Homo sapiens: one gene and its partner. The protein of the gene in region 2 interacts with the protein of the main gene of each other region in a biochemical or structural test. Each region holds a gene or a part of one and is shown on either strand. Other genes may lie near its edges.

Region 1 (3,500 bases), on a different chromosome or scaffold from region 2:
TTTTTTTTTTTGAGACGGAGCGTCATTCTTGTTGCCCAGGCTGGAGTGCAATAGCGCAATCTCAGCTCACTGCAACCTCTACCTCCTGGGTTCAAGAGATTCTCCTGCCTCAGCCTCCCAAGTAGTTGGAATTACAGGCATCCACCACCACCCCACCTGGCTAATTTTTTGTATTTTTAGTAAAGACGGGGTTTCACCATGTTGGACAGACTAGTCTCGAACTCCTGACCTCAGGTGATCCACCTGCCTCAGCCTCCCAGAGTGCTGGGATTACAGGTGTGAACCACCATGCCCGGCCTTTTTTTTTTTTTTTTTTTTAGATGGAGTCTCACTCTGTTGCCCAGGCTAGAATGCAGTGGTGCCATCTCAGCTCAATGCCACCTCTGCCCCCAGGGTTCAAGCAATTCTTGTGTCTCAGCCTCCCCAGTGGCTGAGATTATAGGCACCCACCACCACGCCTGGCTAATTTTTGTATTTTTAGTACAGATGGGGTTTCACCATGTTGGTCAGGCTGGTCTCCAACTCCTGACCTCAGGTGATCCGCCCACCTCAGCCTCCCAAAGTATTGGGATTACAGACGTGAGCCACCGTGCCCAGCCTAATTTTTTTTCTCTCTTCAGATTTGCCGGGCTTACCTCCTTCATTTGTTTATTGTGAATTCCCTGAGGATGGCCAGAGGGACAGGCACTACCCTGGGCACTGGGAGGTGAGGGTGGACAGAGCAGGCAGGGAGAGTGGAGTGGAAGCATCCAAATCATCACTGCCTGTCTGGGTGGCACAACCTATACAAATCTGACTGGACTGTGTGTGTCTCTCCTCTGTGTCCCCCAGGGCCCGTCACAGCTGGAGCTGACTCTCCAGGCATCCAAGCAAAATGGCACCTGGCCCCGAGAGGTGCTTCTGGTCCTCAGTGTAAACAGCAGTGTCTTCCTGCATCTCCAGGCCCTGGGAATCCCACTGCACTTGGCCTACGTGAGTGTGTTCCCTCCAACCCCAGGCTGAGGCTCTGGCCATGGGAGGTCCCTACTGTCCATCTCTGTGGGTCAGGGTCTCCCACCCCAGCGGCCCAGCCCTGCTTCTCCCTTTCATCTTGACATTATTCACCAGGGTCCTGCCTGGTGAAGCCAATGGTCTCTACCAGAGAGAACCCAGAGGGCACCAGGACTACAGTAAAGAGTCTAGACCAAGAGGTGGGAGTCAGGTTGATGTGCAGCCCTGGCCAACTCTGATCCTCTGCATAGGCTCAGTTTGCCTCTCTGTCCAGTGGGACAACTGAACTCAATATTTTATATGATAATCTTTTCATTGTCTTTGAAAAAGTTACACGACATATATTTGAAAATATTTAAAGACAGAGGAAAAGGGCCAGGAGAAAACCTAACGTGTTAACAGTGGTTATGGCTGGGAAGTGGGATTAGGAGAGACATTTAGTTGGTTCTTCACACTTTGTTGAGTTTGCAAGAGTTGCTCTAAATGGATTTGGCCTATTTTGGAGAAAAAAGTATTTTTAAAAAACTCAAGTTTTCAGGTCAGCTGTGGATTTGGGAAAAACAATTAAAAACAAACAACCAAAAGCCTCAACTTTTAAAAGTGTTAGCTATATCCACCAGAGAGAGGAGGTCAGGGAGCTGGGACCCACTGCCAGAGGTCAGGGCTGGAGGAGGCAGGGTGGCTTGCCAGCACTGCCTCCTCCATGAGGAATGTCTGGGAGGTGGCCCCCAGATGTGAGCAGCTGTTGTTTACAACAGAGAAAGCAGAGGGTAGGAAGGGGAGAGCCCGGGGGAGAGCAAAGATAGCAAAGGGGAGAGAGGCATAGAAAGAAACATGCCCACTGCGGGAGGGAGGCAGGCTTGAGCGAAGTTGGGCGTGGGGGACAGGGGAGAAGCTTCCGGACTGGTGACAGGGACAGCACAGAGACAGTCAGACATGACCAAGCCAGCATGCCAAAGTCCTAGGAGGGAGGGGGCCAAATCCAACCACCAGGGCCAAGAGGATTTGACTCCTTGCAGCCCATCCCTCGGCCGCCCAGAAGGGGAATCGAGGTCCCAGAGGGGGCGTGGCCTTTACCATGGATCCTCCCCCTTCCCGATCTGAGTCCGTGCAGCCCAGGGTGAGGCAGGAACATGAAACGCGCCCGCCAGCCGGAAGGTCGCAGTAGCCGCCGGCTCTGGCCTCGGCCGCGCCGCCTTCCTCCTGGGGCCGCGCTGCTTCCCGAGCGGGCTCCCTGGGGCCGGTGGCCAGAGGGGACAAAGAGGCCAAGGCGCGGCCTCGGTGGCCGACCCAGTGCCAGGCGACCAACAGACGTCGTGCCCTGCTGTATCCCCATTTTACAGGGGCTGACTCAAGGATCAGATCCCTTTCCCAACCCAGCTGTAAAGCCAGTGTCCCAGCCCTTTCCCATTCCGCGGGCTGGGTTCCTCACCCAAGATGCCCATCACTTTGCCCCCTTGTTGAATCCCTACAGAGAAGGTATCTACTTCCTTCTAGATGGGCCATTCTAGGGTGTCTTGTCTACTGTTGCCATCTGGCAGTCCTCAATATCTAGCTTGGGCCAGGCGACCTGGCTTATGTCTGTAATCCCAACACTTTGGTAAGCCGAGGCAGGAGGGTCTCCTTTTTTTTTTTTTTTTTTTTTTTTTGAGATGGAGTTTCACTCTTGTTGCCCAGGCTGGAGTGCAATGGCCCCATCTCGCCTCACTGCAACCTTCGCCTTCTGGGTTCAAGTAATTCTCCTGCCTCAGCCTCCCGAGTAGCTGGGATTACAGGCACCTGCCACCACCCCCACCTCATTTTTTGTATTTTTAGTAGAGACAGTGTTTCATACCGTGTTGGCTAGGCTGGTCTCGAACTCCTGACCTCAGGGGATCCACCCGCCTCGGCCTCCCAAAGTGCTGGTTTACAGGCGTGAGCCACTGTGCCTGGCCAGGAGGGTCTCTTGAGGCCAGGAGTTGGAGACCAGCCTGGGCAACATAGTGAGACCCTCGTCTCTAAAAAATTATAATAAAAAATATTTTTAAATCCAACCCGAAGCCCTTTTGCCCTTCTGCTGCTGCTGTTTCATTCAGCTCAATGCCCTTGGCTTTGGAGACTGTACACTAAGAGCTCAGTCAGTGGCCCCAACAGCTTCCTCTGAATCCTTCAGCTTTCCAGAGTCACTCTTCCAGGAAGTCTTCCCTGTCTGCTTTCCTCCTCACCCCCAACCCCCATTTCTTCTGAGGCAATGGCAGGGTAGGCAGTGAGATGCTGAAGCCACCCAGACTCCCCATCCCTGTCCAACCAGGAGATCTGTCTGGCTCCTTTGTTTCTTATTAAATAAAATTCTGTCTTCTATTGTTTCAAATGACTTGATGCATGTCTAGTTTCTGAATGGTAATATCCCCTAGGGCAGGGACCACTGATATCTGTCTTTAATTCATTAATTCATTCATCCATCCCTTTCTTCTTTCTTCCCTTTCTCCCTGTCTTCCCATAGGCGGGGAGCACCCATCACATGCTGGGTG
Region 2 (4,022 bases):
CTTTACTTGATTCTACATAATTAAACATGAAAACTACACTTAGGCCGTGGAACATTACAAATTCTAATTACTCCCATAAAACATTATTTAAGAGGCCGGGTGTGGTGGCTCACGCCTGTAATCCCAGCACTTTGGGAGGCCAAGGCGTGCAGATCACTTGAGGTCAGGAGTTTGAGACCAGCCTGGTCAACATGGCAAAACCCCGTCTCTACTAAAAATACAAAAATTAGCTGGGCGTGGTGGCATGCACCTGTAATCCCAGCTACTCGGGAGGCTGAGGCATGAGAATCACTTGAACCCAGGAGGCAGAGGTTGCAGTGAGCTGAGATTGCACCACTGCACTCCAGTCCTGGGCGACAGAGCAAGATTCTGTTTCAAAAAAAACTGCGAGAATTTTGGAAATCACCCATTCCAACCTAAGTCATTCCATATAAACATCTCAATTTTGTCTTCTATAAAATGAACTGGACTAAATTCTAAGGTGGTTTAAGCTCTAAAAAAAAACTCTTAGGCCGGACATGGTGGCTCATGCCTATAATCCCAACACTTTGGAGGCTGAAGTGGGTGGATCACTTCAGGTCAGGCGTTTTGAGACCAGCCTGGCCAACATGGTGAAATCCCATCTCTACTAAAAATATAAAAAATTAGCCGGGCGTGGTGGCGGGCGCCTGTAATCCCAGCTACTCAGGAGGCTAAGGCAGGAGAATAGCTTGAACCTGGGAGGGGGAGGTTGTAGTGAGCCGAGGTCATGCCATTACACTCCAGCCTGGGCAACGAGAGCAAAACTGTCTCAAATAATGATAATAAATAAAAATTAAAAATCCTCTAAATTTTATAACAGTGTAAGATTATAGCTATGACAAAATTGCTATAAGTTTAACCTTTTGCAAAAGTATTGCAAAAATTAACACTTTTACTAAAGGAAAAGTGTTAGTTTTTCTAAAAGATGAAACAGTACTAGTCTTCATCTAGCCCTAAATGTAAACTAGGAAATTAATTACATAAAATTTTGGCAAATTGTATGCTTAATCTGTAAGTCACACAAAATGCATTCTCAAATATCTGCCACATGGGTAGTATCCTAGAGTACACTAATTTGGCCACGTTAAAACAATACATTCTCAATGTAATACTTAGGCTTCGACTCTCACCCTAGAAAAAGGTACCCATTATCACTTGGGGGAATTCACAGCTTTAAATACTTCCCAGTGCTACACATACAAACACACACAGTCAAGCAAAGGGAAACAAATTAAGCATTACAGCTTTTTTCTATGACAAGGTGAATGCAAAATAATCTTGCCCTCTGCATTGCAGAAGAATAGTTCTTGCAACCCATGGAAAAGCAAACACATCAAGAGATCTTAAATGTCAAAGAAGGCTTCAGGTAATAGCCTCAAGGAAAGATTTTACTTATAAAATAGTTAAGAATGTTTTTATTTTAAAACACTGAACACATAAGTTCTGCACAACAGCTGCAATGAAAATTCTAAGCACAGACACACTGCAACGTTCTAGAAAGAAATGTTACCCTCACAACAACAGCATTCTTTTTAAAGAATACTACTAACTGCAAAGATGAAGTGCAGAAAGCCTTCAGGAAAAAGTATTAAAAACACTACACTTCTGGCTATCAGTTTTGGTCACTTAGTGGTTAAAAAGCTGTCAGGCTATTTTTGCATTTTACGCAAGTGATCATTAGTTAATCTTTCACCTACCAAAGTCACTAGAGTCTAAACCTATTATATTCACAAAGAATATAACAATTTTAAATGTCATCTATTAAAACATCCTTTATTCTATATCACAACTGATTACATCTAATAATATCAAATGAGGTCTCTCTTCAGTTAAAATTAAGACTTGGTTTTGAAATATCTTGCATAGCCTAGGGCCCAGTTCAGCACCAATGAACTGATAAAGAAAACTAGGCAGTTAATCATTCAATTCAATATTACCTGTAAGATTTGCAAATGGATTTTACACTTGATTATCACAGCTGTATTTCTTCTCTTTGCTAAACATTCATGTACTCTTTATAAGCCTGAATTTAAAAACCCACCAAGCCTTTTAGTTGCATTACATAACACGATCATATTTCATCAACATTAAGAGCATGCATTCTCAATGAGCAGATGCTTAGCTTTTTCTTTAATGGCTCAAATTATTAGGAAATAAACAACTTTGTTTTTTAAAGTACAATAAAATTATTTCAATTCTCTGTTTTAATTTAAGCAATACTACATATCCATAGTCATTTTTGCCAGGATATTTGATTTTAAAATCCATAAAAAAAGCATTTTGGTCCAGAAGGCTCCGATAAGAATAGGTCAAGATTGAAATAAAGCTCAAATGTAAGTTGCTAAATGGACTGAAGTCAAAACAAATCTAATTGTAAATAGTACCTCACTTTACTCCACAAGGGTTTCTAAAGAGGAATTCAAAACTGATTTGTAAAGCAATCCTATTTTAGTGCATTAGAAATGCTCACTTATACTTAAAAACAGTTAAGTCTTCTCACAAGTAAATCATCTAAATATAAAAAGGATTTAAACTAAAAACCAGATGTGCTTAAATTTAGGGCAAATCCAAATGCCCTGGGTTTTTCAAAGGGCAAAAGATATAGTTTTAATAGCAATTAAGTCAACATCAATACTGCCAACTTAACTACTTAACATGTAGGTAGAGTTCAGTCTGTGGCTTATCAAAGTCTCAAGACTTAACTGTAACTTGACCTTTTTGCTGCTATCTACCACTTAAAACACTGAGAAGACAGAAAAAAAAGTTACTTTGTGCAGTTTGTTGAATCTCCATTATTAACACGGCAATCTTTCAGTATGTATTAGCCTAGTTAATAACCTATGTAATAATTACATTATTTTCTCCTTTATGACTTTAGGGGAGGCCCGGCATGGTGGCTCACACCTGTAATCCCAGCACTCTGGGAGGCCGAGGCGGCTGGATCACCTGAGGTCAGGAGTTCTAGACCAACCTGACCAACAAGGTAAAACCTGTCTCTACTAAAAATACAAAAATTAGTTGGGCGTGGTGGCAGGTGCCTGTAACCCCAGCTACTCTGGGCGGGGGGCCGAGGCAGGAGAATCGCTTGAACCCAGGAGGCGGAGGTTGCAGTGAACCGAGATCACATCGTCGCACTCCAGCCTGGCGGACAAGAGCGAGACTTCTCAAAGAAAAAAAAATTGCCTGGGGTGGTGGCGCACACTTGTAATCACAGCTACTTAGGAGGCTGAAGCGGGAGGATCACTTGAACCCGGGAGGTGGAGGTTGCAGGAAGCCAAGATCATCCTACCGCACTCCAGCCTGGGCACTCCAGCCTGGGCAACAGAGATTCATCTCAAAAAATAAAAATAAAATAACAAAATCACTTGAGGGTAGGGTATGACAGAGTATAGTAATTCACATACACCTATACACATTTAATGACCAGTCATGGTTCAAGTCCTCAGGAGGGGCTTATAAACTAGATTTATATTTTTTTTTCAGAAGTACTTGAACACTAGATTCTAACAGCCACCTCACAACTAAATTGGCTGCCAATCAGCACCTACCTTTATATTAACTTCTCTGAGGAGTTATCTTTCAGTCATTAATGTCTCTACACTTTATATCACTAATCATTAATGTTCATAATTAGTATTAACACATTATTAATGTTCACAATCATTAATATTTTATGTTCAATTACTGTCCTAGAAAAAAACATTTCCAAGAAATTCTAAAGAATCAAAAACTCAAGTAGCAGCCAGATCAGCAGGCTTGCTTACTGCATTAAAATTTTAAAAAGAGGCCGGGCACAGGGGCTCACTCCTGTAACAGCACTTTGGAAGACCAAGGCGGGCGGATCAGGAGGTCAAGAGATCGAGACAATCCTGGCCAACAGGGTGAAACCCTGTCTCTACTAAAAATACAAAAAATTAGCTGGGCGTGGTGGCAGGCACCTGTACTCCCAGCTACTTGGGAGGCTGAGGGAGGAGAATCGCTTGAACCCGGGAGGTGGAGGT

What was found.
Region 1: the proteins of CAPRIN1 (region 2) and ENG interact on a protein array, tested with the Homo sapiens proteins (one large-scale study listed by IntAct).

The regions. Positions count from the first base shown.
Region 1 is NC_000009.12:127,827,159-127,830,658, reverse strand, and holds part of ENG (endoglin isoform 1 precursor), read left to right. Parts: intron 1-831; coding exon 832-972; intron 973-3,500. UniProt on the Homo sapiens protein: Vascular endothelium glycoprotein that plays an important role in the regulation of angiogenesis. Required for normal structure and integrity of adult vasculature. Regulates the migration of vascular endothelial cells.
Region 2 is NC_000011.10:34,054,508-34,058,529, reverse strand, and holds part of CAPRIN1 (caprin-1), read right to left. Parts: intron 1-4,022. UniProt on the Homo sapiens protein: mRNA-binding protein that acts as a regulator of mRNAs transport, translation and/or stability, and which is involved in neurogenesis, synaptic plasticity in neurons and cell proliferation and migration in multiple cell types.